5 separate regions of the Homo sapiens genome follow, and regions 1, 2, 4 and 5 are each linked to region 3. Evidence: fine-mapped expression QTL. A gene starts in region 3. Each other region holds a variant in brackets. All regions are shown on one strand. Distances are from middle to middle. Region 1 has its middle 23 kb from the start of QSER1. Region 2 has its middle 7.7 kb from the start of QSER1. Region 3 holds the start of PRRG4 (proline rich and Gla domain 4). Region 4 overlaps CCDC73 (coiled-coil domain containing 73). Region 5 overlaps CCDC73 (coiled-coil domain containing 73).

Region 1 (5,107 bases), 40 kb after region 3:
ACAGAATTAGAAAAAAACTATTTTAAAATTCATACAGAACAAAAAAAGAGCCCAAATAGCCAAAGCAATCCTAAGCAAAAAGAACAAAGCTGGAGGCATCATGTTACCCAACTTCAACCTATACTACAGGGCTACAGTAACCAAAACAGCATGGTACTGGTACAAAAGCAGACACATAGACCCAGGGAACAGAATAGAGAGTTCAGAAGCAAGGCTGCACGCTTATGACCACAAGGTCTTTGACAAAGCTGACAAAAACAAGAAATGGGAAAAAGATTCTCTATTCAATAAATGGTGCTAGGATAACTGGTTAGCTATATGCTGAAGTTTGAAGCTGGACTCCTTCCTTACACCATATACAAAAATCAACTCAAGATGGATTAAAGACTTAAATGTAAAACCCAAAACTATAAAAACCCTGGAAGGCAACCTAGGTGATACCATCCTGGACATAGGAATGGGAAAAGAGTTCATGACAAAGACACCAAAAGCAATCACAACAAAACCAAAAATTGACAAATGGGATCTAATTAAATTTAAGAGCTTCTGCACAGCAAAAGAAACTATCAACAGAGTAAACAGAGGACCTACAGAATGGGAGAAAATACTTGCAAACTATGCATCTGACAAATGTCTAATATCCAGCATCTATAAGGAACTTAAATTTACAATAGAAAAACAATCAGGCTGGGCGCAGTGGCTCACGCTTGTAATCCCAGCACTTTGGGAGGCCGAGGTGGGTGGATCACAAGGTCAGGAATTCGAGACCAGCCTGGCCAATATGGTGGAACCCTGTCTCTACTAAAAATACAAAAAGTAGCTGGGCATGGTGGCATGCACCTGTAGTCCCTGCTACTCGGGAGGCTGAGGTGGAAGAATAGCTTGAACCTGGAAGGCGGAGGTTGCAGTGAGCCGAGATTGCACCACTGCACTCCAGCCTGGGTGACAGAGCAAGACTTCATCTCAAAAAAAAAAAAAAAAAAAAAGAAAAGAGAAAAGAAAAATAATCCCATTAAAAGTGGGCAAAGGACATGAACAGACACTTTTCAAAAGAAGACATACATGTGGCCAACAAGCATATAAGAAAAAAAATATATCACTGAACATTAGAGAAATGCAAATCAAAACCGCAATGAGATACCATCTCGCACAGTCAGAATGGCTATTATTAAAAAGTCAAAAAATAACAGATGCTGGTGAGGTTGCAAAGAAAAGGGAACACTTATACACTGTTGGTGAAAATGTCAATTAGATCAACCATTGTGGAAAACAGTATGGCGATTCCTCAAAGAACTAAAAACAGAACTATTTAACCCAGCAATCTCATTCCCGGGTATATACACCCAGAGGAATATAAATCATTCTAACACAAAGACACATGCACACGAATGTTCACTGCAGCACTATTCACAAAAGTAAAGACATGGAATCAACCTAAATGCCCATCAATGATAGACTGGATGAAGAAAATGTGGTACATATACACCATGGAATACTATGCAGCCATGAAAAAGAACAAGATCATGTCTTTTGCAGGAACATGGATAGAGCTGGAGGTTATTATCCTTAGCACACTAACGCAGGAAGAGAAAACCAAATCCCACATGTTCTCACTTATAAGTGGAAGCTAAATAACTCATGAACGCAAAGAAGGGAACAACAGACACTAGGGTCTACTTGAGGGTGGAGGGTGGGAAGAAGGAAGAAGCAGAAAAAATAACTATTGTGTACTAGGCTTAATACCTGGGTGATGAAATAATCTGTACAACAAACCCCCATGACACAAGTGTACCTATATAACAAGCCTTCACATGTACCTCTGAACCTAAAAGTAAAACAATAGAGTAAAAAATAAAATAAAGTGAAAATAAAATAAAATAATGTGAGTAGAAATAAAGAACTACTTGTGATAAAATAATCCATCAATGTATGGCTCAAAATTAAAGCTTGTTTTAATATAATTTTAATGTAAGCTATGTCTCAAGATAAACTAACTGAAATTCCTTTTTTTTTTTTTTTTTCAGACGGAGTTTCACTCTTATTGCCCAGGCTGGAGTGTAATGGTGTATTCTCCGCTCACTGCAACCTCCGCCTTCCCGGTTCAAACAATTCTCCTGCCTCAGCCTCTGGAGTAGCTGGGATTACAGGCGCGAGCCACCACACCCGGCTAATTTTTGTATTTTTAGCAGAGACGGTGTTTCACCATGTTGGCCAGGCTGGTCTCAGACTCCTGACCTCAGGTGATCCGCCTGTCTTGGCCTCTCAAAGTGCTGGGATTACAGGTGTGAGCCACTGCGCCCGGCCTGAAATTCTTTTAAAAAATAATAATTAAGGCCAGGCACAGTGGCTCATGCCTGTAATCCCAGCACTTTGGGAGGCTAAGGCAGGCAGATCATGAGGTCAGGAGTTCGAGACCAGCCTGACCAACATGGTGAAACCCCATCTCTACTAAAAATACAAAAATTAGCCAGGCATCGTGGTGCGCACCTGTAATCCCAGCTACTCGGGAGGCTGAGGCAGGAGAATTGCTTGAACCCGGGAGGTAGAGGTTACAGTGAGCTGAGATTGCCCCACTGCACTCTAGCCTGGGCAACACAGCGAGACTACATCTCAAAAAATAAAAATAAAATAAAATTTAAAAATAATAATTAGGCCGGGCGCGGTGGCTCATGCCTGTAATCCCAGCACTTTGGCAGGCCGAGGCAGGTGGATCACCAGAGGACAAGAGTTCAAGACCAGCCTGGCCAACATGGTGAAACCCCGTCTTTACTAAAAATACAAAAATTTGCTAGGTGTGGTAGCGCCTGCCTGTAATCCCAGCTACTCAGGAAGCTGAGACAGGAGAATCACTTGAACCCGGGAGGCGGAGGTTGCATTGAGCCAAGATCGCACCACTGCACTCCAGCCTGGGTGACAGAGCGAGACTCCATCT[CAA/C]AAAAAAAAAAAAAAATAATAATAATAATAATAAACTAATAAACACATAGAAACCAAAACAAATGTAACACTCCCAAACTCATTCCTGAAAAGGGGCACTGCAGAAATGTTATCAAGAATCTTATCTTACACCAAATGATACACAAGCAACCCATGCTATGTCCAAATGACACAAAAGCTCAAATAGCATAGACAGAGGATTCCCCGTGTGTGCCCTGGTTTGACTTACCCAGTCTTGGGGCCCATCAACTCCCTTGGATACCACTTGCACCACCAAAGTGTTACAGGCTGCTGATTCCATGAAGGGGACAGAAGAGAGGGTCCCCAAGACAAAAGATTTCTCAGTTGCTGCTAGGACACTCCTGGAATCCCAGCCACAGAGGCAGCTAGCCATGAGCAGCAACTAGCACTCATAAGCGGTTGCTGCTCTGCCTGATAACATGAACAGGTAAGCCCTGGTGCACTGCTGCAGCCAATTGCTCCATCCATGGAAACCAGGCAGGCTAGACCACCAGAGGGCACACAGCCCCACATTGGGTGCCAAATTTTGTAACTGAACCTATGTTTGGCTGCTTGCTGCTCAAAAACCAGACACGAGAAATGAGGGTTGGTGGGAGGAAAAGCCAGATTTATTTGGAAAGCCAGCAAAACCAAGAAGATGGTGAATTCATGTTTAAGAAATCATTGTCTACTCAAGGTTGTGAAGATTTTTTTTTTTGAGACGGAGTCTCGCTCTGTCGCCCAGGCTGGAGTGCCGTGGCGCCATCTCGGCTCACTGCAACCTCCACCTACTAGGTTCAAGCAATTCTCCTGCCTTAGCCTCCCGAGTAGCTGGGACTACAGGCACATGCTGCCACCCCTGGCTAATTTTTTTTTTTTTTGTATTTTAGTAGAGATGGGGTTTCACTGTGTTGCCCAGGCTGGTCGCGAACTCCTGAGCCCAGGCAATCTGCCCACTTCAGCCTCCCAAAGTGCTGGGATTACAGGCGTTGAGATACCGCACCCAGCCAGAAGATTTCTTTTTAATGTTTTCTTCTAGTCACTTTATAAATGCAGCTTTTACATGTAAGTCTAATTTTTATGTTTATCAGGTAAGAGCTGAAGTTCATTTTCTTCCATGCAACTATGCAGTTGTTTTAGCAACACATCTTTAAAAGGCTGTCCTTTCTCCGCTGAATTATCTTGGTACCTTTGCTGAAAATCAATTGATCACACATATGGGGTTCTGTTTTACTGATCATAGTTTATCCTTATATCAATATCATATTATCTTGATGACTGTAGCCTTGTCATAAGTCTTCAAAAGAAGTAGTCTAAGTTCTCAAACTTTGTTCTTTCCCAAAAAATTTTTGGCTATTTAATACATTTAACATTGCATACATTTTGGAATTAGCTAGTCAATTTCTAAATCAAAAGACTGCTGAAAATTTGACTAGAATTGCATTTAATTTATAGAAAAACTTACATGTATTAAACAATCCATAGTTTTTTTGTTTGTTTGTTTGTTTTTTTAGACAAAGTCTTGCTCTGTTGCCCAGGCTGGAGTGCAGCGGTGCGATCTCAGCTCACTACAACATCTGCCTCCCAGGTTCAAGTGATTCTCCTGCCTCAGCCTCCTGAGCAGCTGGAATTACAAGTGCATGCCACCATGCCCAGATAATTTTTGTACTTTTTGTAGAGACAGGGTTTCACCATGTTGGCCAGGCTGGTCTCGAACTCCTGACCTCAAATGATCTGCCTGCCTCAGCCTCCCAAAATCCTGGGATTACAGGTGTGATCCACTGTGCCCAGCCCATAGTATGTTTTCTCATGTATTAAGATCTTTTAAATTTATCTCAGCAATGTTTATAGGTTTCGGTATATAGGAGTTACGTCTATTTTGTTAAATTCATCCTTAAGTACTTAATGTCTTTTTACACTGTTCTAGATGACATCTTTAAAATTTAATTTTCCAACTTTCTTTCCAAGAGAATTCCAATTATGTTTTCAAGAGAATTGAAAACGTATGTTCACATAAAAAATTGTTTATAGCAGCATTATGCGTAATAACCAAAAAGTGGAAACTCCCAAATGTTCATCAACCTATGAGTGAATAAACAAAAAGTAGTATATACATACAAGGGGATATTATTCAGTTAGAAAAAGGAATGAAGTACTGACACATGCTACAACA
Region 2 (5,107 bases), 55 kb after region 3:
ATAAAATTCCACATGAGATTTGGGTGGGGACATATAGCCAAACTATATCAGTTAGACTACATATACTAAAACTAACATACAGCCTGGCCAACATGGTGAAACCTCGTCTCTACTAAAAATACAAAAATTAGCCAGGTGTGGTAGTGCACACCTGCAATCCCAGCTATTTGGGAGGCTGAGGCATGAGAATTGCTTGAACCTGGGAGGTGGAGTATGCAGTGAGCCAAGATCACACCACTGCACCAGCCTGGGCAACAGAGCAAGACCCTGTCTCAAAAAAAAAAAAAAAATTAACATGCATGATAATTAAGTGAAGTCTAGATCTCTCCCAACAACCTTCCTTTATCACCACCGTATCTGGGGCTTTGCGATAAAGGGAACAGAGAAGTACCTAAGGGAAGGGGGAGGATATAAACCAGCTGTGCAGAGGGCAGAGTGTGCTTTGGTGTCTTAGGCCAGGCTGTAGCAAAGAGAAGCTGAGGCTTGAGGATACATGCTCTACCACCCTTAGTTTGGGGCTCAGTCCTCTGGAGGCAAACCCTCTGAAAAATATTTGCCTCAAGCTGTGTTTTCAAACAACTGGGACAACAGGTGTACAATGAGACTGTCCTAGGTAATGAAATGTTTTTTTTTTCTTTTCTTAGTGTGTGTGTGTGTGTATGTGTGTGTGTGTAGTATGTGTGTATAAATCTATAAAGGGTCTTTTGGCATACCAGTTCCAACCAGGCTGAAGATGTAGACTAGAGTGGGACATTAGGAAGGGCAAGAGAATGTTTTCCATAGCTTTGATCAACTCATCCTCCTGCTTAAAATGTTCTCATGGCTCCCTATTGTGAGAAAGTATACTAAAGTACTTATATGTTTGGATGATGGTCCAAATCTGGGACTATTTGAACATCAAAATAAACAAATGTGGTAATGGATTATAATCCTATGGTTGGGGACCCCTAAGACCACCCTCAATTTCAATGATTTGCTACAAGAACTCAAAGAACTCAGACACATTGTTATACTCGTGGTTATGATTCATTATGGTAAAAGGATGCAAATTAAAATCAACAATATGAAAATGCACATAGTGCAGAGTCCAAGAAAGACCAGATGCAGGCTTCCAGTGTCCTCTTTCAGTGGAGCTGTGCGGACATTAATACTATGTGACAACACACGTGAAGTATTGTCAATCAGAAGCCCACCTAAGCCTTGGTGTCCAGGGTTTTTATTGGGGGTCAATTGCATAGTCATAGTAATTGCTCCTATGGCTGACCTGAATTCTCCAGTCCCTCTAGAGGTCAAGCTGATATTATGTGGCCCAAAGTGCCCACTATAAATCGCATTGTTAGCATGAATGATCTGGTGTGGCCCAAGGCCTTAACTAAACAAAAATACTCTTTATTAAGAGCCTTGAAACTAGGCAAGGGCCAAACTTTTCTTTGCAATGTACAGGGTTTGAACAACCCACACCTGCTGAGTTAATCCTTTACAAATCTGCTAAATAAAATAAAAATCCATGAGTACATATTGATATAAATAAACAAGGAATGTTAAATTAAGTTTAGCCTAAAGCTGCCGCCTTACATATTTTAAGGTCAGCCTAAAAATTTCTCCGTACATGGTGAACTATAACCTAACTGGATGTGTAAACAGACTGTACCTATTCTTGTGCCAATCACTGAGTTTTAGCCAACCAAGGGTGGCCAACTGTTCAAACCATGTTCAAATAAGGCAAACACTGAGCCGTAACCAATCAGCTGTTTTTATACTTGTATTAGTCTGTTCTCACACTGCTATAAAGAACTACCTGAGACTGGGTAATTTATCAAGAAAAGAGGTTTAATTGACTCACAGTTCTGCAGGCTGTAAAGGAGGCAAAGCTTCAGAGGCCTTAGGAAACTTACAATTGTGGGAGAAGGCAAAGGGGAAACAAGCAATTCTTCACATGGCAGCTTAAGACAGAGAGAGTAAAGGGTGAAGTGCTACACACTTTTAAACAACCAGATCTCGTGAAAACTCACTATCACAAGAATAACAAGGAGGAAACCCGCCCCCATGATCCAATCACCTACCACTAGGTCCCTCCCCCAACACTGGGAATTACAATGCAACATGAGATTTGTGTGGGGACACAGAGCCAAATGATATCAATACTCACTTCCATTTTCTGTATATCACCTTCCTTTTCCCGTCTGTAAATCTTCTTCCACCAAACAGCTGTGCTGGAGCCTCTCTGAACCTATTCTGATCCAGGGGCTGCCCAATCCAAGTTATTTTTTGCTCAATTAAACTCTATTAAATTTAATTTGTCTGAGGCTTTTCTTTTTAACAGGGATGAGGAACAATCCTTCTTGAAGAATGATAACTAATGATGTAGAAGGAATGATGAAGTTAGAAAAATCACTACAGTTGGTCCTCTGTATGTGTATAGCAGAGCCTCTAGAGGGAGCATGACCCTGCCAACTCCTTGATTTCAGACTTCCAG[T/G]CTTCAGAACTGTGAGATAATGAATTTCTGTTGTCACCTAGTTTGAGGTCATTTGTTGCAGCAGCCATAGGAAACTAATGATATGAACAGGAGACAGGGAGATCGGGAAATTCTGCGTAGAAGAGGGTGGTTCCCTGGCAAAGGCCCCACCTTCAAGCCTGTAGACCATGGCCCTAAATGGAGACAGGCATTCCTGTTTTCATGCCCAAAACATTGCCTTTTGGCCCACCATGCCCCCTATCTCTTACCCATATAAACCTGGAACCCCAGGCTCCAGAAGCAGATGAGCAGACAAGCAGACGAGGAGACAAGGAGACAAGCAGATGAGCTGTGGCACAGCACAGCAGGGAAAGAGAGAAGAGGAGGAATGTCTGAACGCCAAGAGGAGTTCAACTGAGGGCAGTCAGGGAGGAGTTTGGCTGCTGGATGGCCAAACTTTAGGGGATCATCTTCCCACTCCATCCTCCCTTCCAGCTCCCCATCCATCCCACTGACTGCCACCTCCGCCACTCAGTAAAACCCCACATTCATCCTTCAAGCCTGTGTGTGACCTCATTCTTCTGGGACGCTGGACAAGAGCTCAGGATACAGAAAGCTGTCACACTGGCCCTCTGCTCTTGCAGAAAGGCAGAGGGTCCATTGAGCTGGCTAACACTCAAGCTGTCTGCAGACGGCAAGGCTAAAAGGGCACACGGTAACACACACCCACTTGCGCTCCTGCACCTGCCTGTCTGCGTGCTCCCCCTCCCATCAGGGGTTTGAGCAGTGGTGGCAATCAAATAGGCAAGCCACACCCCTGTCGCACGTCCTTCGAGGGGGATTACGGAACATGCTTGTTTCAGTAATACATATGCTTAAAGCAGAGGTGAAAGAATGATGCCTTGAGAATTTTTTTTTTTTTTAGACAGATTCTCACTCTTACTGCCCAGGCTGGAGTGCAATGGCGTGATCTTAGCTCACTGCAACCTCCGCCTCCCGGGTTCAAGCAATTCTCCTGCTTCAGCCTCCTGAGTAGCTGGGATTACAGGTGCCCGCCACTATGCCCGGCTAATTTTTGTATTTTTAGTAGACATGGGGTTTCACTATGTTGGCCGGGGTGGTCTCGAACTCCTGACCTCAGGTGATCCGCCCGCCTCGGCCTCCCAAAGTGCTGAGGTTACAGGAGTGAGCCACTGCACCGGCCTCAGGAATTTACACAATATTCAAGTATCCACGAAATACTTATTGATTACAAAGTAAAATGTAGTAACTCTTTAGAGGAGAAATCTGGCAGTAACTCCTTTAACCAAGCCTATTTGGTTTGGAGTCAAATTGCTGATTTGAAGCTCCACTTGCATCATTGTGGTTTTTTGTTTGTTTTTTTGTTTGGAGACAGTCTCACTCTTGCCCAGGCTAGAGTGCAATGGCAACATCACAGCTCACTGTAACCTCTGCCTCCCAGGCTCAGGTAATCCTTCTGCTGCAGCCTCCCAAGTAGCTGGTATACAGGCACACGCCACCACACCCAGCTACTTGTTGTATTTTTTGTAGAGACAGGTTTTGCCATGTTGCCTTGGCTGGTCTCGAACTCATGGGCTCAATCAATCCGCCCACCTGGGCCTCCCCAAGTGCTGGGACTACACGCGTGAGCCACCAGGCCCTGCCTGCATCACTGTCTTATATTAGCTTGTACAATGTTGGGAAAGTTACTTAATTTCACTAAGCTTCAATTTCCTGTAAAACGGATTAATAATAAAAAATATCCACATCTTAAGGATCTTAGGAGGATTGTGACAATTCCACATAAAGCCCTTAGCACAGGACCTAAGACATACATTGTCAATATGTATCAGTTATTCTTATGAGAATCACTCTCACCTACAGGTTTAAATCTCCTGTAATCTATTTAGGGAGATAAAATGTCCTCTCAGTGAAAGACTTCATGACAAGGCCACAGCCTTGTCTTTCCAGTTCATACTTAAATTGTACTCCTTTCCCAGACCTCCTGGTTTCTAATCATTCAACCTTGCTTACTGCAGGCCCTTGATCAACGAAACCATTCATCAGTGCCCCAAAGTCCCTCCATATCCGTAGCTCAGAAAACTACCTCTCCGCACAAAATTGATGATCAAGTATGTTTCTTGAAGCTCTTTCAGGGACACCCCCTAGTGAGGCTGCAGCTTCCAGAGAAGCAGGGTTAAACAGCAGCTTTCCTGATTCCATTGCTGTCTCCCTGGAGGGGTATGGCAGACAACAATGAGCAGAGTCAAAAGATGATTGATAGGGTCAAGCCTCAGAGACAGAGAAAATTATAGTGGGACTTAGTTTCCTTCTAACTTTTTTTATTTTAATTTTTCTTTAGAAACAGAGTCTTGCTCTGTTGCCCAGCCTGGAGCATAGTGACATGATCATTCCTTACTGTAACCTCGAAATTCTGGGTTCAAGTGATCCTCCAGCCTTAGCCTTTGGAGTAGCTAGGACTGTGTCCGGAATTGGCGGGTTCTTGGTCTCACTGACTTCAAGAACGAAGCCACAGACCCTCGCAGTGAGTGTTACAGTTCTTAAACGGAGGGTGTCCGGAGTTTCTTCCTTCTGGTGGGTTCGTGGTCTGGATGGCTTCAGGAGTGAAGCTGCAGACCTTTGCGGTGAATG
Region 3 (5,086 bases):
GATGTAATTCACTACTGAGAAACAGACTTCATTTCTCTGTCTGCCTCCCTCTCTGTCTATAAACTCTGATATTTGATGTCAGCACAAGGCCTCATTTGTTTTGGTCCAAATATCCAGATATGTGGGCAGACTCATTTTACCAAGGAATGTCATCAAAGTTCACAACTGCTGATTCCATAGCATGAGGCATTTGACCATTGGCCTCTCCCCAAAGTAGTGGGAAATGAAGCACTTTTCCTACCTGAAGATAAATTGCTTCCACTCCATGAAAATGTATTCAGCACGAACAATGTAGAAAGCACTCCCCTGGGTACTGTCGAGAATGCAAAAATGAATAAGTCAGTTCTTGCACTTGATAAGAACTTTACAGGCCCACATTCTCAGATATAGGTCTCAGTCAGATTAAGTTCTCCTCCACAACAGAAGCTGTGGTGTCCATCTCCCCACCAGGAGGTCTCAGTGCTGTAGGTTGACTCAATGAATAAACAGGAAAATGGGTGTTCTAGTGAAAATGTTTCCTATTCTTGTGTTCAACCACAATAAACCATGTCTGGCCTCTTCATAGTCTGATCCCAATTGCTTGAATAAGAGGGAAAGAAGAATCCATCATAGAAATAGTTTAGACCACGAGGTAGACAAATGGAAAGTGAAGAGGAAGGGATTGGAAGAAGGGAAAGGAAAAGCACTGCCTAGAAGGAATCAGTGAAAACAAAATTTCTGCAGAAAACTTAGGAATAATTCAGTTGATTATCAATAATAATAATAAAATAGACAATATCCTTTGGGAGGAGAAAAACAGAATTTGGTAAAAATTGAATTAGTCAAAAATTTGAGGCCGGGCACAGTGGCTCATGCCTGTAATCCCAGCACTTTGGGAGGCCGAGGTAGGTGGATCACCTGAGGTCAGGAGTTTGAGAACAACCTGGCCAACATGGTGAAAACCCCTCTCTCCTAAATGTACAAAAAATTAGCCGGGCGTGGTGGTGGATGCCTGTAATCCCAGCTACTCGGAAGGCTGAGGCAGGAGAATCGCTTGAACCCAGGAGGCGAAGGTTACAGTAAGCCAAGATTGTGCCACTGTACTCCAGCCTGGGTGACAGAGCAAGACTCTGTCTCAAGAAAAAAAAAAAAAAAATGAAGGGGGAAAAAATGTTTCCCTTGGTCCCCAGCAAGTGCCAGACCACTTCGACCAAAGCATAAATAGTGTTTCAAAGAACTGTTAAGCACGTTCTTTGGATAAAGAAGGATGTGACCATCACCTGGCATAGGTACTCTGTCCACCTGCTGCCTTCATTACTTGATGCAGCAGTTTTTGAAGTCTTTAATCAAGACCTTTTTACGCTCTTTTACATTATCAAGGACCCCAAAGAGCTTTCACTTATGTGAATTTTATCTAATGATATTTATTATCTAACATTAAAACTGAGAAATTTTCAAAATATTATTTGAAATCAAGACAACAAAGCTTACTTTTTGTTATGTTTATGCATAGACTCAAGGAAAAGATCAAGATTTCAAGATAATTACTTCAGAAAAATGAGGTTATAGCTATCCTAGTAGATATGAACAAATAGAACTAATCAAAGTACAAAAGCAGTAGCCAAGAGAGTTGGTGGACACCTGTAGTCCCAGCTACTCTGGAGGATGAGACAGGAGGATCTCTTGAGCCCAGGAGTTCCTGGGCAACAAAGTGAGACCCCCTACTCTGAAAAAGAAAAAAGGAAAGAAAAAAAATTAAGTTCACAAGTACTGAGAACAAATTTTATTAATCTCTATAAATCTACATAAATCTCTATAAAATGTACATACTGATAATGTAAACATACTACTATGGAAAATACCAGAAAATACAAGCACGCTCACTCAGGTATTCTATTAGGAGACAGAATGATGACGTTATTACACTTCAAATAGCCCCTGGAAATTTCCACTGTACACTCTTGAGAGAATGAAAGTGAAAATGGCAAATCATTTATTGTTACTATAATGGAAATAGTTTTGCCCTCAGAGACCCCTGGAAAAGATCTTGGAGACATCCCAGACCTGGCGGACCACCATTGGAGAACCAATGTAATCAATTACTTGTAAGGTCATTTCCATTTCTTATCACGAATAAAGGGTATTTTGTCTGATGAATATCTTGTCCTCGTCCCCGGACCACCCTTTTGAGAACAGTTGACCTAAGGTAACCACAGGACTCCTGGCCCAGTGGGACCCAAAGCGAAAAGCCCTGGACGCGCCGAGGGCGCTCTGCTTAAGACTGAGAACCGAAATGCTTCCTGAATTAGGATCATTGAGAACGCCGAGTGCAGACACAAATCGAAAAGCAGCCACCCGCGCCGCCAAGGCGGGGCCAGAACTGGCGGCAGGCGGCTGGCCCGCCCGGGGATGGGGCAGAAGCTGGGGCGGCTGAGAGCGCAGCGCGGGCTCCCGGGAGACGCCGGCCCACTGCCCGCCCGCTCGCCGCAGGTAGGCCCGGCCCCCGGGAGGTGGGGCGCGGCCAGGTGTCCCCAGGTAGCCGCCTCCTCCCGTCCTCCGTCGGCCGCCTCCCCGGACCGAGGCAGGACCTCACCCCGCGCGTGTTCCCCGGGCGCCCCTCTGCGAACCCCAGGCCCTTCCCAGGTTTGCGCGCGGGGGCCATCCAGACCCTGCGGAGAGCGAGGCCCGGAGCGTCGCCGAGGTTTGAGGGCGCCGGAGACCGAGGGCCTGGCGGCCGAAGGAACCGCCCCAAGAAGAGCCTCTGGCCCGGGGGCTGCTGGAACATGTGCGGGGGGACACAGGTACGAGGCCTGGCGGCAGGACCTCGGCGGGGAGGGGGTTACCTGGAAGGGGCCACCTCGGCGGACTGGGTTGGATTCGAACACATAGCGAGGGTTGCCCGCGGCGACAGGTGCCCGATCAGCCCTCGGCAGGGTCACTGGGCACGGCGTTTGTCCCAGGCGCTCTCAGGGGCTGCTTCCTGGGCGCGCGTCGGGTTCCGGCGACCGAAACCGCGCGCCGGGCGCTCTTGCGCCTAGGCTTTGAGTACAACAGGTTGGTGATTCAGTTCGACAGAAACTCAAAGTGCTGAGCTAGGGGCCTTTTTTTTTTAATATTTTTTTTTGTTTGTTTTAGTTTGTTTGACAGTTGCCAGACTATGTTTACGCTTCTGGTTCTACTCAGCCAACTGCCCACAGTTACCCTGGGGTTTCCTCATTGCGCAAGAGGTCCAAAGGCTTCTAAGCATGCGGGAGAAGAAGGTAAGCACTAAAACGTCCCTGGAACCCAGAGCCGCATAGCACAGATCTCAGTGAGAAAGTGCAGTATTTGAAATTACATACCCCCAGCAATCATAGAAACACTAAAATATCCTTTAGTTTAATTTGTGGCATATTTGGCAAGGTTGTGTTTTTTTATGTTCTTTAACTGCAATTTATAGAATTTGATGTCTGTGAGTCTCCTTTAATAAGTATATACGTAAGACCTAGTTTGTGGTTAATTGAATGGAAAACCTATTTCAGCTTCTGAAAATCAGTGAGTGACATTTCTCTAGATGAAGCTGTGTGGCGATTATAATAAGCATAATTACTTGTTCTTCCTGGAGAGGCGAACGGGGAGTCCAGGATCTAGTCTGGACTTGCGAGACCCTGGGCGAGATAACTTAATCCCGTTTGGCTTGAATGTCTTCATCTGTAAAAGTGATGCGGGTGGGGCGTAAAATGATCTCTGAGGTCCTTTTTGACTTCAGATGGTCTAGTTGTCTAGATAAAAGCAGCTAGTTGAGAAAAGATTAGGTTTGGGGCTTGCTAACCTGGAAGTCCACAGTTTTTAGGTTTCAGATCATTAACAGTTTGTTTCCTGCCTATATCTTAAAAGCCTAACCTAGTAAAACCAGAAGAAAAAAAAAGCCTCTGTCTCTCAGCATCCTTCTCCCTGACTATTCATGGTGCTTCCCCACTCAGTGTCAGTACTCTGGATCCACGTCCCCACACATTCCTGTCTCTTATCCCTTCTCATCAGATCCGATTCTCAGCTCATTTTCATTTGGGAAGGATCTGTTACACTAGTACTCCTAACTGACTTTATTAATGATTAATACAGCTGTGTTTGTGTGTGTTGAGCTAGAACAATCCATTAACCCAAAGGCGTGAAACTCTGATGACAGAATTCTAGCAACTGGATAGGCTAGCTAGAGAGAGAGGGAGAGATTTTGGAAGAGGATCCTTTTTAGTCCCTCTCAAGCTGCACCATATATGTAAGTCCACTTAGAAGGTTGCACTTATAAGGTTCCATAATCAGATGCTCTTCCCTAAAATGATTGTGAGTGCAATCATTCATTCACATGACACGGGTATAAGAGACACTCTCGCCGGCACGGTGGCTCACACCTGTAATCCTAGCACTTTGGGAGGCCGAGGCAGGTGGATCACCTGCGGTCAGGAGTTCGAGACCAGCCTGGCCAACATGGTGAAACCCCGTCTCTACTAAATATACAAAAATTAGCCTGGCTTGGTGGCACGTGCCTATAATCCCAGCTACCCGGGAGGCAGAGGCTGCAGTGAGCTGAGATCGTGCCACTGCACTCCAGCCTGGGCGACAGAGTGAGACTCCATCTCAAAAAATAAAAATAAAAGCAAATAAATAAATAAATAAATAAAAGACAGTCTCAAGGACACCACAAGCTATGGAAGGAATTTAGAGATCATACTTGAGTGTGGAGGGCTGGAGATGTCTGTGGAAATGTGAATGAGGGATCCGACACATTTGAAAAGACAACTTGTTCAGTCAGTCACCACTTGATGAACACATGCTAAGTGCCAGGCCCCGTGCTGTGTGGTGGAGACATAGAAATGAAAGACTGCAATCTCTGCCCTGGAGGACATCTTCATCTGTGTGGGAGGCAGGGTGTTTGTTAAACAGACGATCTCCATCAACTGTATAACAGAAGCCAGAACACAGAACTGAGAGCAGAGGAAAGAGTGAGTAGCAGTAACTCTGCCTCAAGAGAGTTGTATGGCAGAGAAGCCAATGCCTTCCATCTGCAAATGGGCTATAATAAATGGAGATATGAAAAGTAACTGGAAATAAAGGACCTTTGGTGAAATTC
Region 4 (5,107 bases), 81 kb before region 3:
GGGTAACCCAACCTTTCTTTCTGGCTGCCCTTAACATTTTTTCCTTCATTTCAACCTTGGTGAATTTGACAGTTATGTGTCTTGGGGATGCTCTTCTCAAGGAGTATCTTTGTGGTGTTCTCTGTATTTTTTGAATTTGAATGTTGGCCTGCCTTGCTAGGTTGGGGAAGTTCTCCAGGATAATATCCTGAAGAGTGTTTTCTAACTTGTTTCCATTCTTCCTGTCACTTTCAGGTACACCAATCAAACGTAGATTTGGTCTTTTCACATAGTCTCATATTTCTTGGAGGCTTTGTTCGTTTCTTTTCATTCTTTTTTCTCTAATCTTGTTTTCTCACTTTATTTCATTAATTTGATCTTCAATCACTGATATCCTTTCTTCAGCTTGATCGTATTGGCTACTCAAGCTTGTGTATGCTTCACGAAGTTCTCGTACTGTAGTTTTCAGCTCCATCAGGTCACTTAAGCTCTTCTCTACACTGGTTATTCTAGTTAGCCATTTGTCTAACTTTTCAAGGTTTTTTGCTTCCTTGCAATGGGTCAGAACATGCTCCTTTAGCTCGGAGAAGTTTGTTATTACTGGCCTTCTGAAGCCTACTTCTGTCGACTTGTCAAACTCATTCTCTGTCCAGTTTTTTTCCCTTGCTGGCGAGGAGTTGTGTTCCTTTGGAGGAGAAGAGGCATTCTGGTTTTTGGAATTCTCAGCCTTTCTGCTCTGGTTTCTCCCCATCTTTGTGGTTTTATCTACCTTTGGTCTTTGATGTTGGTGACCTACGGATGGTGTTTTGGTGTGAACGTCCTTTTTGTTGATGTTGATGCTATTCCTTTCTGTTTGTTAGTTTTCCTTCTAACAGACTGTCTCCTCAGCTGCAGGTCTGTTGGAGTTTGCTGGAGGTCCACTCCAGACCCTGTTTGCCTGGGTATCACCAGTGGAGGCTGCAGAACAGCAAATATTGCTCTCTGATCCTTCCTCTGGAAGCTTCGTCCCAGAGGGAGGGGCACCTGCCTATATGAGGTGTCTGTTGGTCCCTACTGGGAGATCTCCCAGTCAGGCTAAAGGGGGTCAGGGACCCATTTGAGGCAGTCTGTCTGTCATCAGAGCTTGAACACCATGCTGGCGGAACCAATGATGTCTTCAGAGCTGTCAGGCAGGGATGTTTAAGTCTGGAGAAGCTATCTGCTGCCTTTTGTTCAGATATGCCCTGCCACCAGAGGTGGAATCTAGAGAGGCAGTAGGCCTTGCTGAGCTGCAGTTGGCTCTACCCAGTTCAAGCTTCCTTGCTGCTTTGTTTAAACGGTGAGCACAGAACCACCTACTCAAGCCTCAGCAATGGCAGATGCCCCTCCCCCTGCCAAATTTCAGCATCCCAGGTCAATCTCAGACTGCTGCACTAGCAAGCAAGCAAGGCTCCATGGGCGTTGGACCTGCCGAGACAGGCACAGGAGGGAATCTCCTGGTCAGCCAGTTGCGAAGACCATGGTAAAGTGCAGTATTTGCACAGGAGTGTACTGTTCCTCCAGGTACAGTCACATCTTCCCTTGGCTAGGAAAGGAAAATCCCCTGACCTCTTGCGCTTCCTGGGTGAGGCGACACCCCGCTCTGCTTCAGCTCGCCCTCCACGGGCTGCACCCACTGTCCAACCAGTCCCAACGAGATAAACCAGGTATCTCAGTTGGAAATGCAGAAATCACCCATCTTCTGCATCAGTCTCCCTGGGAGCTGTAGACCGAAGCTGTTCCTATTCAGCCATCTTGGAAGCGACCCATCCTACATGTTCTTATTGGAGAATTTAGTCCATTTACATTCAATGTTATTATTGATAAGTGAGGACTATCTCTCATCATTTTGTTATTTTTTTTTTCTGGTTGTTTTGTGGTTTTCCTTTTTTCTTCCTTCCTGTCTTTCTTTCAATGAAGGTGATTTTTCTCTGGTGGTATTTTTTAATTCCTTGCTTTTTATTTTTGTGCATCTCTTGTATGGTTTTCAATTTGAGGTTACCATTAGGCTTGCAAATACTATCTTTAACCCATTATTTTAAAGTGATAACAAATTAATACTGATTGCATAAACAAACAAGCTAATTACCAAACAAGCAAAAGAAAACTTATAAAAACTCAATAATTTAACTTT[G/A]TCTCCTCACTTTTTACATTTTTGTTGTTTCCATTCATATCTTATTATACTGTCTATGTCTTGAAAAGCTGTTGTAGTTATTATTTTTAATTGGTTCATCTTTTCATCTTTCTACTTAAGATATAAGTAGTTTACACATCACACTTACAGTGTTATAATATTCTGTGTTTTTCTGTGTACCTACTATTACCAGTGAGTTTTACCTTCAGATGATTTCTTATCACTGATTAACATCCTTTTCTTTTGGACTGAAGACTTCTCTTTAGCATTTCTTGTAGGACAGGTCTGGTGTTAATGAAATCCCTCAGCTTTTATTTATCTGGGTAAGTCTTTATTTCTCCTTCATGTTTGAAGGATATTTTCACTGTACATACTATTCTAGGGTAAAACCTTTTTTCCTTCAGCACCATAAATATGTCCTGGCCTGTAAGGTTTCCACTGAAAAGTCTGCTGCCAGATGTATTGGAGCTCCATGTATGTTATTTGTTTCTTTTATCTTGATGCTTTTAGGAATCTTTCTTTATCCTTGACCTTTGGGAGTGTGATTATTAAATGCCTCAAGGTAGTCTTCTTTGGGTTACATCTGCATGGTTTTCTATAACCTTCTTGTATTTGAATATTGATATTTTTCTAAAGATTTGGGAAGTTCTCTGTTATTATCCCATTGAATAAACTTTCTACTCCTCTCTCTCTCTACGTCCTCTTTAAGGCCAAAAACACTTAGATTTGCCCTTTTGAGGCTATTTTCTCGATTTTGTATGTGTGTTTCTTTTTTCTCTGACTGTATATTTTCAAACAGCCTGTCTTCAAGCTCACTAATTCTTTCTTCTGCTTGATCAATTCTGCTATTATGAGACTCTGATGCATTCTTCAGTATGTCAATTGCATTTTTCAATTCCAGAATTTCTGCTTGACTCTTTTTTAATTATTTCAATCTCTTTATTAAATTTATTTGGCAGAATTCTAAATTCTTCTGTGTTATCCTGAATTTCTTTGAGCTTCCTCAAAACAGCTATTTTGACTTCTCTGAAAGTTCACATGTCTCTCTTTCTCTGGGACTGGTCCCTGTTGCCTTATTAGTTTGTTTGGTGAGGTATGTTTTTCTGGATGGTCTTGATGCTTGTGAGTGTTCGTCAGTGTCTGGGCATTGAAGAGTGGGGTATTTTTTGTAGTCTTCACAGTCTGGCCTTTTTGTACCCATCCTTCTTGGGAAGGCTTTCCAGGTATTTGAAGGGACCTGAGTGTTGTGATCTAAGTTTTTTGTCACTGCAGCCGCATCTGCACTAGGGGGCACCACAAGCCCAATAACGATGTAGTTCTTGTAGACTCAGAAGTATTGCCTTGGTGGTCTTGGATAAGATCCAGAAGAATTATCTGAATTACCAAGCAGGGACTCATTCTCTCCTCTTACTTTTTTTTTTTTCTTTTTTTTTTTGAGACGGAGTCTTGCTCTGTCGCCCAGGCTGGAGTGCAATGGCACAATCTTGGCTCACCACAACCTCCACCTCCCGGGTTCAAGCCATTCTCCTGCCTCAGCCTCCCAAGTAGCTGGGATTACAGGCACCGACCACTACGCCCGGCTAATTTTTTGTATTTTTAGTAGAGACGGGGTTTCACTGTGTTGGCCAGCCTGGTCTCAAACTCCTGACCTCGTGATCCGCCTGCCTCAGCCTCCCAAAATGCTGGGATTACAGGCGTGAGCCAACGCTCCTGGCCTCTACTCTCACTTTCTACCAAATAAATGGATTATCTCTCTGTGCTGAGCTTCCTGGAGTTGGGGGACAGGTGACACAAGCACCCCTGTGACGACCACCACTGGGACTGCACTGGGTCAGACCTGAACCCAGTACAGCACTGGGTCTTACCCAAGGCCTGCTATAGCCACTACCTGACTACCACCAGTGTGCACTCAAGGCCTTAGCGATCTACAATCACCAGGTGGCAAAGCCAGGCAGTCTTGTATCCTTCTTTTCAGGGAAGTGACTGTCCCTGAGCTCTAGGCAGGTCCATGCCATCCAGGAGCCAGGGCCCAGAGTCAAAAACCTAAGAAATCCACCTGGTGCTCTATTCCACTGTGGCTAAGCTGGCACCAAAACCACAAGACAAGGTTCTTCCCGTTCTTCCCTCAACTTTCCCAAAGCAGAGGAATCTCTCCCCATGGCCACCACCACCACAGCCAACAGGGAGTATTGACAGGGTACCACTGATGTTCACTTAAGGCCCAAGTCCAGGCCAGGACACACCCTTCAGGACAGTGGGCTCCCCTCTGGCCCAGGGTAGGTCCAGAGATGCTGTCCATGAGCCAATGCCTGGAATTGGGAACCCCTAGAGCCCACTTGGTGCTCTTCCCCACTGTAGCCAAGCTGGTACCTAAGCTGCAAGAAAAGTTCCCTTTATTCTTCCCCCTCCTTTTCTCAAGTGGAAGGGGTCTCTCCTCATAGCCACCATAGCTGTGAATATGCTGGATCACACCTGAAGCCAGCATGTCTGAGTCTCACCCAAGGCCCACAGCATGTACTACCTGGTTATTGCTGCCGATTATTCAAGGCCCAAGCGCTCTTAAGTTAGCAGGTAGTGAATCCTGCCAGAACTGAATCCTTCCCTTCAAGGCAGCAGGTTTCCTGTCTAATCCAGGATGTGTCTAGAAATGTTGTCTGGGAGTTAGGGCCTGGAATGGGAGCCTGATAACTCTGCCCAGTGCCCTATCCTACTGTGGCAAAGCTGGTATCCAAGTTGCAAAACAAAATCCTCTTACCTCTTCCCTCTCCTCTCTTCAAGCAGGAAGGAGTCTCTTTGGGAGCTGTACACTGCACTGCCTGGGGTTGAAGAGGGGTGGCATAAGCACTCCCTTTGCCACCCCGACTGGTGTGTCACTGGGTCGCATGCTCTCTCCAATGGCTCCGAGACCAGTCCAAGTCCACTGGCTCTGAGACCAGTACAGCACTAGGACTTGCCTAGGAAGTGTAGTCCTTGTGG
Region 5 (5,107 bases), 90 kb before region 3:
TATCTTTAAATGTACAACTAAATTATTAGACTATAGTCACCTTATTGTGCTATCAGTTACTAGATCTTATTCAGTCTTATTTTTTTTTGTACCCATGAACCATCCCCAGCTCACCCCTAACCCCACTCCCACTACCCTTCCCAGCCTCTAGTAACCATCATTCTACTCTCTATCTCCATGAGTTCAACTGTTTTAATTTTTACCTCCCACGAATAAGTGAGGACATGCAAAGTTTATCTTTCTGTGCCTGGCTTATTTCACTTAACATAATGACCTCCAGTTCCATCCGTGTTGTTGCAAGTAATAAGATCTCATTCTTCTTTATGGCTGAGTTATACATTCATATACACTGTGTATATGTACCACATTTTCATTATCCATTCATCTATTTACAGACACTTAGGTTGCTTCAAAATCTTGGTTACTGTGAATAGTGCTACAATAAACACGGGAGTACAGATATCTCTTTGATACACTGATTTCCTTTCCTTTGGGTATATACCTAGTGGTGGGATTGCTGGATCATATGGTAGCTCTATTTTCAGTTTTTTAAGAAACCTGCAAATTGTTCTCCGTAGGGGTTATACTAATTTACATTTCCACCAACAGTGTATGAGGGTTCTCTTTTCTCCATATCCTCAACAACATTTGTTATTGCCTGTCTTTTGGATAAAAGCTACTTTAACTGGGGTGAGATGGTATCTCATTGTAGTTTTGATTTGCATTTCTCTGATGATCAGTGATGTTGAACATCTTTTCATATACCTGTGTGCGATTTGTATGCCTTCTTTTGAGAAATATTCAGATCTTTTGCCCATTTTTAAATTGGATTGTTAGATTTTTTCCTATATAGATGTTTGAGCTCTTTATGTATTTTGGTTATTTATCCCTTGTCAGATTGATCATTTGCAAATATTTTCTCCCGTTCTGTGAGTTTTCTCTTCACTTTGTTGATTGTTTCTTTTGCTGTGCAGAAGCTTTTCAGCTTGATGTGATCCCATTTGTCCATTTTTGCTTTGGTTCCTGTGCTTCTGGGTATTACTCAAGAAATCTCTGCCCAGTCCAATGTCCTGGAGAGTTTCCCCCAATATTTTCTTTTAGTAATTTCATGGCTTGAGGTTTTAGATTTAAGTCTTTAGTCCATTTTGGTTTTGTTTTTGTATACGGAAACATAGTGGTCTACTTTCATTCTTCCGCACATGTATATCCAGGTTTTTCAGCACCATTTATTGAACAGTCATTCCTCAATGTATGTTCTTGGCACCTTTGTTGAAAATGAGTTCACTATAGGTGTGTGACTTTGTTTCTGGGTTCTCTATTCTGTTGCATTGGTCTATGTGTTTGTTTTTAATGCCAGTACCATGCTGTTTTGGTTACCATAGTTCTGTAGTATAATTTGAAGTCAGGCAATGTGATTCCTGCAGTTCTGTTCTTTTTGTTCAGGATAGCTTTGGCTAGTCTGGGTCTTTCGTGGTTCCATATAAATTTTAGAATTTTTTTTTCTATTTCTCTGAAGAATGCCATTAATATTTTCATTGGCATTGCTTTAAATTTGTAGATTGCTGTGGGTAGTATGGGCATTTGAACAATATTGATTCTTCCAAACCATGAACATGGAATATCTTTCCATTATTTTTTGTGTTCTCTTCCATCTCTTTCACCAATGTTTTATAGTTTTCATTGTAGAGAGCATTCAATTCTTTGATTAAGTTATTCCTTAGATATTTAATTTTATTTGTAGCTATTGTAAATGAGATTACTTTCTTGACTTCTTTTTCAGATTGCTTGCTGTTGGCATATGGAAATGCTACTGGTTTTTGTATGATGATTTTGTATTCTGCAACTTTACTGAATATGTTTATCAGTTCTAATAGTTTTTGGTGGAATCTTTAGGTTTTTCCAAATAGAAGATCATATCATCTGCAAACAAGGATAATTTGAATTCATCCTTTCCAATTTGGATGCCCTTTATTTATTCTTGTCTGATTGCTCTAGCTAGGGCTTCCAGTATTATGTTGAATAACAGTGGGCATCCTTGTCATGTTCCAGATTTTAGAGGAAAAGGTTTCAGTTTCTTCCCATTCAGTATAATACTAGCTCTTGGTCTATCATATATGGCTTTTACTGTATTGAGGTATGCTCCTTTTATATCCAGTTTTTGAGGGTTTTTAATTATGAAGGGACGTTGAATTTTATCAAATGTTTTCTCAGAATAAATTGGAATAG[T/C]TATATGTTTGTCCTTCATTCTGTTGATATGCTATATCACATTGATTTGCATATGTGGAAACATCCTTGGATCCCTGTGATAAATCCCACTTGGTCATGATAAATGATACTTTTAATCTGTTGTTGAATGCTGTTTGCTAGTATTTTGTTGAGAATTTTTGTATCAATGTTCATCAGAGATATTAGCCTGTAGTTTTCTTTTTCTTTCTTTTTTTTGTAATGTGTCTTTGTCTGGTTTGGTATCAGTGTAATAACAGCCTTGTAGAATGATTATGGAGGTATTCCTTCTGCCTCTACTTTTTTTTGGAATAGTTTGAGTAGAATTGGTATTAGTTCTTCTTTAAATGGTTGATAAAATTCCACAGTGAAGCCATTGGGTCCCAGGCTTTTTCTTTGCTGGGATACTTTTTACTACAGCTTCTGCCTCATTACTTGTTATTGGTCTCTTCAGGTTTTGGATTTCTTCATAGTTTAATCTTGGTAGGTTATATGTGTCTAGAAATTTATCCATTTCTTCTAGGTTTTCCAATTTATTGGCATATAGCTGCTCATAGCCTCTAAAGATCCTTCAAATTTCTGCAGTATCAGTTGTGATGTCTCCTTTTTCATCTCTGATTTTATTTATTTGGGTCTTTTCTCTTGTTTTCTTAGTCTGGATAACAGTTTGTCAATTTTATTTTTTCAAAAAAAGAACTTTCTGTTGCTTTTTTGTATTGTTTTTCTTGTTTCATTTATTTCTGCTCTGATCTTTATCATTTCTTTTCTTCTACTAAATTTGGGTTTGGTTTGCTCTTGCTTTTCTAGTTCCTTAAGATGTATAATTAGGTTGTTTATTTGAAGTTTTTCTTTTTTTTTGATGTAGACACTTACAGCTATAAACTTCCATCTTACTATTGATTTTGCTGTATCCCATAGGTTTTGGTATGTTGTGTTTCCATTATCGTTTGTCTCAAGACATTTTTCAATTTCCTTCTTGATCTCTTCATTGACCAACTGATCATTCAGGAGCATACTGTTTAATTTCCATTGTTTGCATACTTTCCAAAATTCCTCATTATTGATTTCCAGTTTTATGCCATTGTTGTCAAAGAAAATACTTGATATTATTTCAATTTTTTAAATGTTTTAAGACTTGTTTTGTGGCCTAACATATGGTCTAACCTTGAGAATGATCCATGTGCTGAGGAGAATAATTTGTATTCTGCAGCTATTGGATGAAATGTTCTATAAGTACCTATTAGGTTCACTTGGTCTACAGTACAGATTAAGTCCAGTGTCTCTTTGTTGACTTTCTGTCTGGATGATCTGTCCAATGTTGAAAGTGGAGTGTTGAAGTCTCCAACTATTATTGTATGAAAGTCTATCTCTCTCTTTAGCTCTAGTAACATTTGTTTTAAACATACGGGTGCTCCAGTGTTAATGCATATATTTTTACAACTGTTATATCCTCTTTCTGACTTGACCCCTTTATCATTATATAATGACCTTCTTTGTCCCTCAAAACACCTTCTTTGTTTTCTCAAAACAAAAACTATTTTGTCTGATATAAATATAGCTACTCCTGCTCTTTTTTGGTTTCCATTTGCATGGAATATCTTTTTCATCCCTTTATTTTTAGTCTATGTGTGACTTTATAGGTGAAGTGTGTCTCTTGTAGGTAACAGATTGTTGAGTCTTTTTTTTTAATCTATTCAGCCACGCTACATGTTCTTTATGTATTTATATATATTTATATATACTTTAAATTCTGGATTACATGTGCAGAATGTGAAGTTCTGTTACATAGGTATTCACATGCCATGGTGGTTTCCTGCACCCATCAACCTGTCATGTACATTAGGTATTTCTCCTAATGTTATCCCTCCCCTAGTCACCCACCCCCCACAGGCCCCTGTGTGTGATGTTCCTCTCCCTGTGTCCATGTGTTCTCATTGTTCTACCCCCACTTATGAGTGAGAACATGTGGTGTTTGGTTTTCTGATCTTGTGATAGTTTGCTGAGAATGATGGTTTCCAGCTTCATCCATGTCCCTACAAAGGACATGAACTCATCCTTTCTTATGGCTGCATAGTATTCCATGGTGTATATGTGCCACATTTTCTTAATCCAGTCTATCATTGATGGACACCTGGGTTGGTTCCAAGTCTTTGCTATTGTGAATAGTGCCGCAATAAACATACGTGTGCATGTGTCTTTACAGCAGCATGATTTATAATCCTTTGGGTATATGCCCAGTAATGGCATGGCTGGGTCAAATGGTATTTCTAGTTCTAGATCCTTGAGGAATCGCCACACTGTCTTCCACAATGGTTGAACTAATTTATACTCCCACCAACGTGAAAGCATTCCTATTTCTCTACAACCTCTCCAGCATCTGCTGTTTTCTGACTTTTTAATGATCACCATTCTAACTGGCATGAGATGGTATCTCACTGTGGCTTTGATTTGCATTTCTCTAATGACCAGCAATGATGAGCATATTTTCACAGGTCTCTTGGCTGCATAAATGTCTTCTTTTGAGAAGTGTCTGTTCACATCCTTTGCTCATTTTTTGATGGGGTTGTTTGCTTTTTTCTTGTAAATTTGTTTGAGTTCTTTGTAGATTCTGGATATTAGCCCTTTGTCAGATGAGTAGATTGCAAAAATTTTCTCCCATTCTGTAGGTTGCCTGTTCACTCTGATGATACTTTCTTTGCTGTGCAGAAGTTCTTTAGTTTAATTAGATCCCATTTGTCAATGTTGGCTTTTGTTGCCATTGCTTTTCGTGTTTTAGACATAAAGTCTTTGCCCACGCCTATGTCCTGAATGGTATTGCCCAGGTTTTCTTCCAGGATTTTTATGGTCCTAGGTCTTTCATTTAAGTCTTTGATCCATCTTGAGT

The links. PIP is the estimated chance that this variant, and not a neighbour inherited with it, causes the effect. A credible set is the group of variants that fine-mapping cannot tell apart.
Region 1: its variant is the best candidate, but not a certain one, in a credible set for the expression of PRRG4 in whole blood (INTERVAL, PIP 0.58).
Region 2: its variant is the best candidate, but not a certain one, in a credible set for the expression of PRRG4 in monocytes (TOPMed, PIP 0.77).
Region 4: its variant is the best candidate, but not a certain one, in a credible set for the expression of PRRG4 in whole blood (TOPMed, PIP 0.50).
Region 5: its variant is the best candidate, but not a certain one, in a credible set for the expression of PRRG4 in whole blood (TOPMed, PIP 0.50).

Annotation. Positions count from the first base shown.
Region 1 is chr11:32,867,451-32,872,557 of GRCh38, forward strand. No RefSeq gene overlaps it. Among named protein-coding and RNA genes, the nearest start is that of QSER1, 23 kb to the right of the region's middle. The variant CAA/C (reference allele first, on the strand shown) is at 2,933.
Region 2 is chr11:32,882,543-32,887,649 of GRCh38, forward strand. No RefSeq gene overlaps it. Among named protein-coding and RNA genes, the nearest start is that of QSER1, 7.7 kb to the right of the region's middle. The variant T/G (reference allele first, on the strand shown) is at 2,477.
Region 3 is chr11:32,827,394-32,832,479 of GRCh38, forward strand. PRRG4 (proline rich and Gla domain 4) reads left to right here and starts at 2,534. Exons shown (of 6, transcript NM_024081.6): 1 at 2,534-2,780; 2 at 3,115-3,239. The coding sequence starts at 3,137. It also overlaps a transcript of CCDC73 not described here. RefSeq lists a silencer at 2,311-2,690 and enhancers at 3,111-3,160, 3,171-3,230.
Region 4 is chr11:32,746,323-32,751,429 of GRCh38, forward strand. The region is part of intron 2 of CCDC73 (coiled-coil domain containing 73); the gene reads right to left. Among named protein-coding and RNA genes, the nearest start is that of CCDC73, 46 kb to the right of the region's middle. The variant G/A (reference allele first, on the strand shown) is at 2,132.
Region 5 is chr11:32,737,715-32,742,821 of GRCh38, forward strand. All of the region lies in intron 2 of CCDC73 (coiled-coil domain containing 73), which reads right to left. Among named protein-coding and RNA genes, the nearest start is that of CCDC73, 54 kb to the right of the region's middle. The variant T/C (reference allele first, on the strand shown) is at 2,227.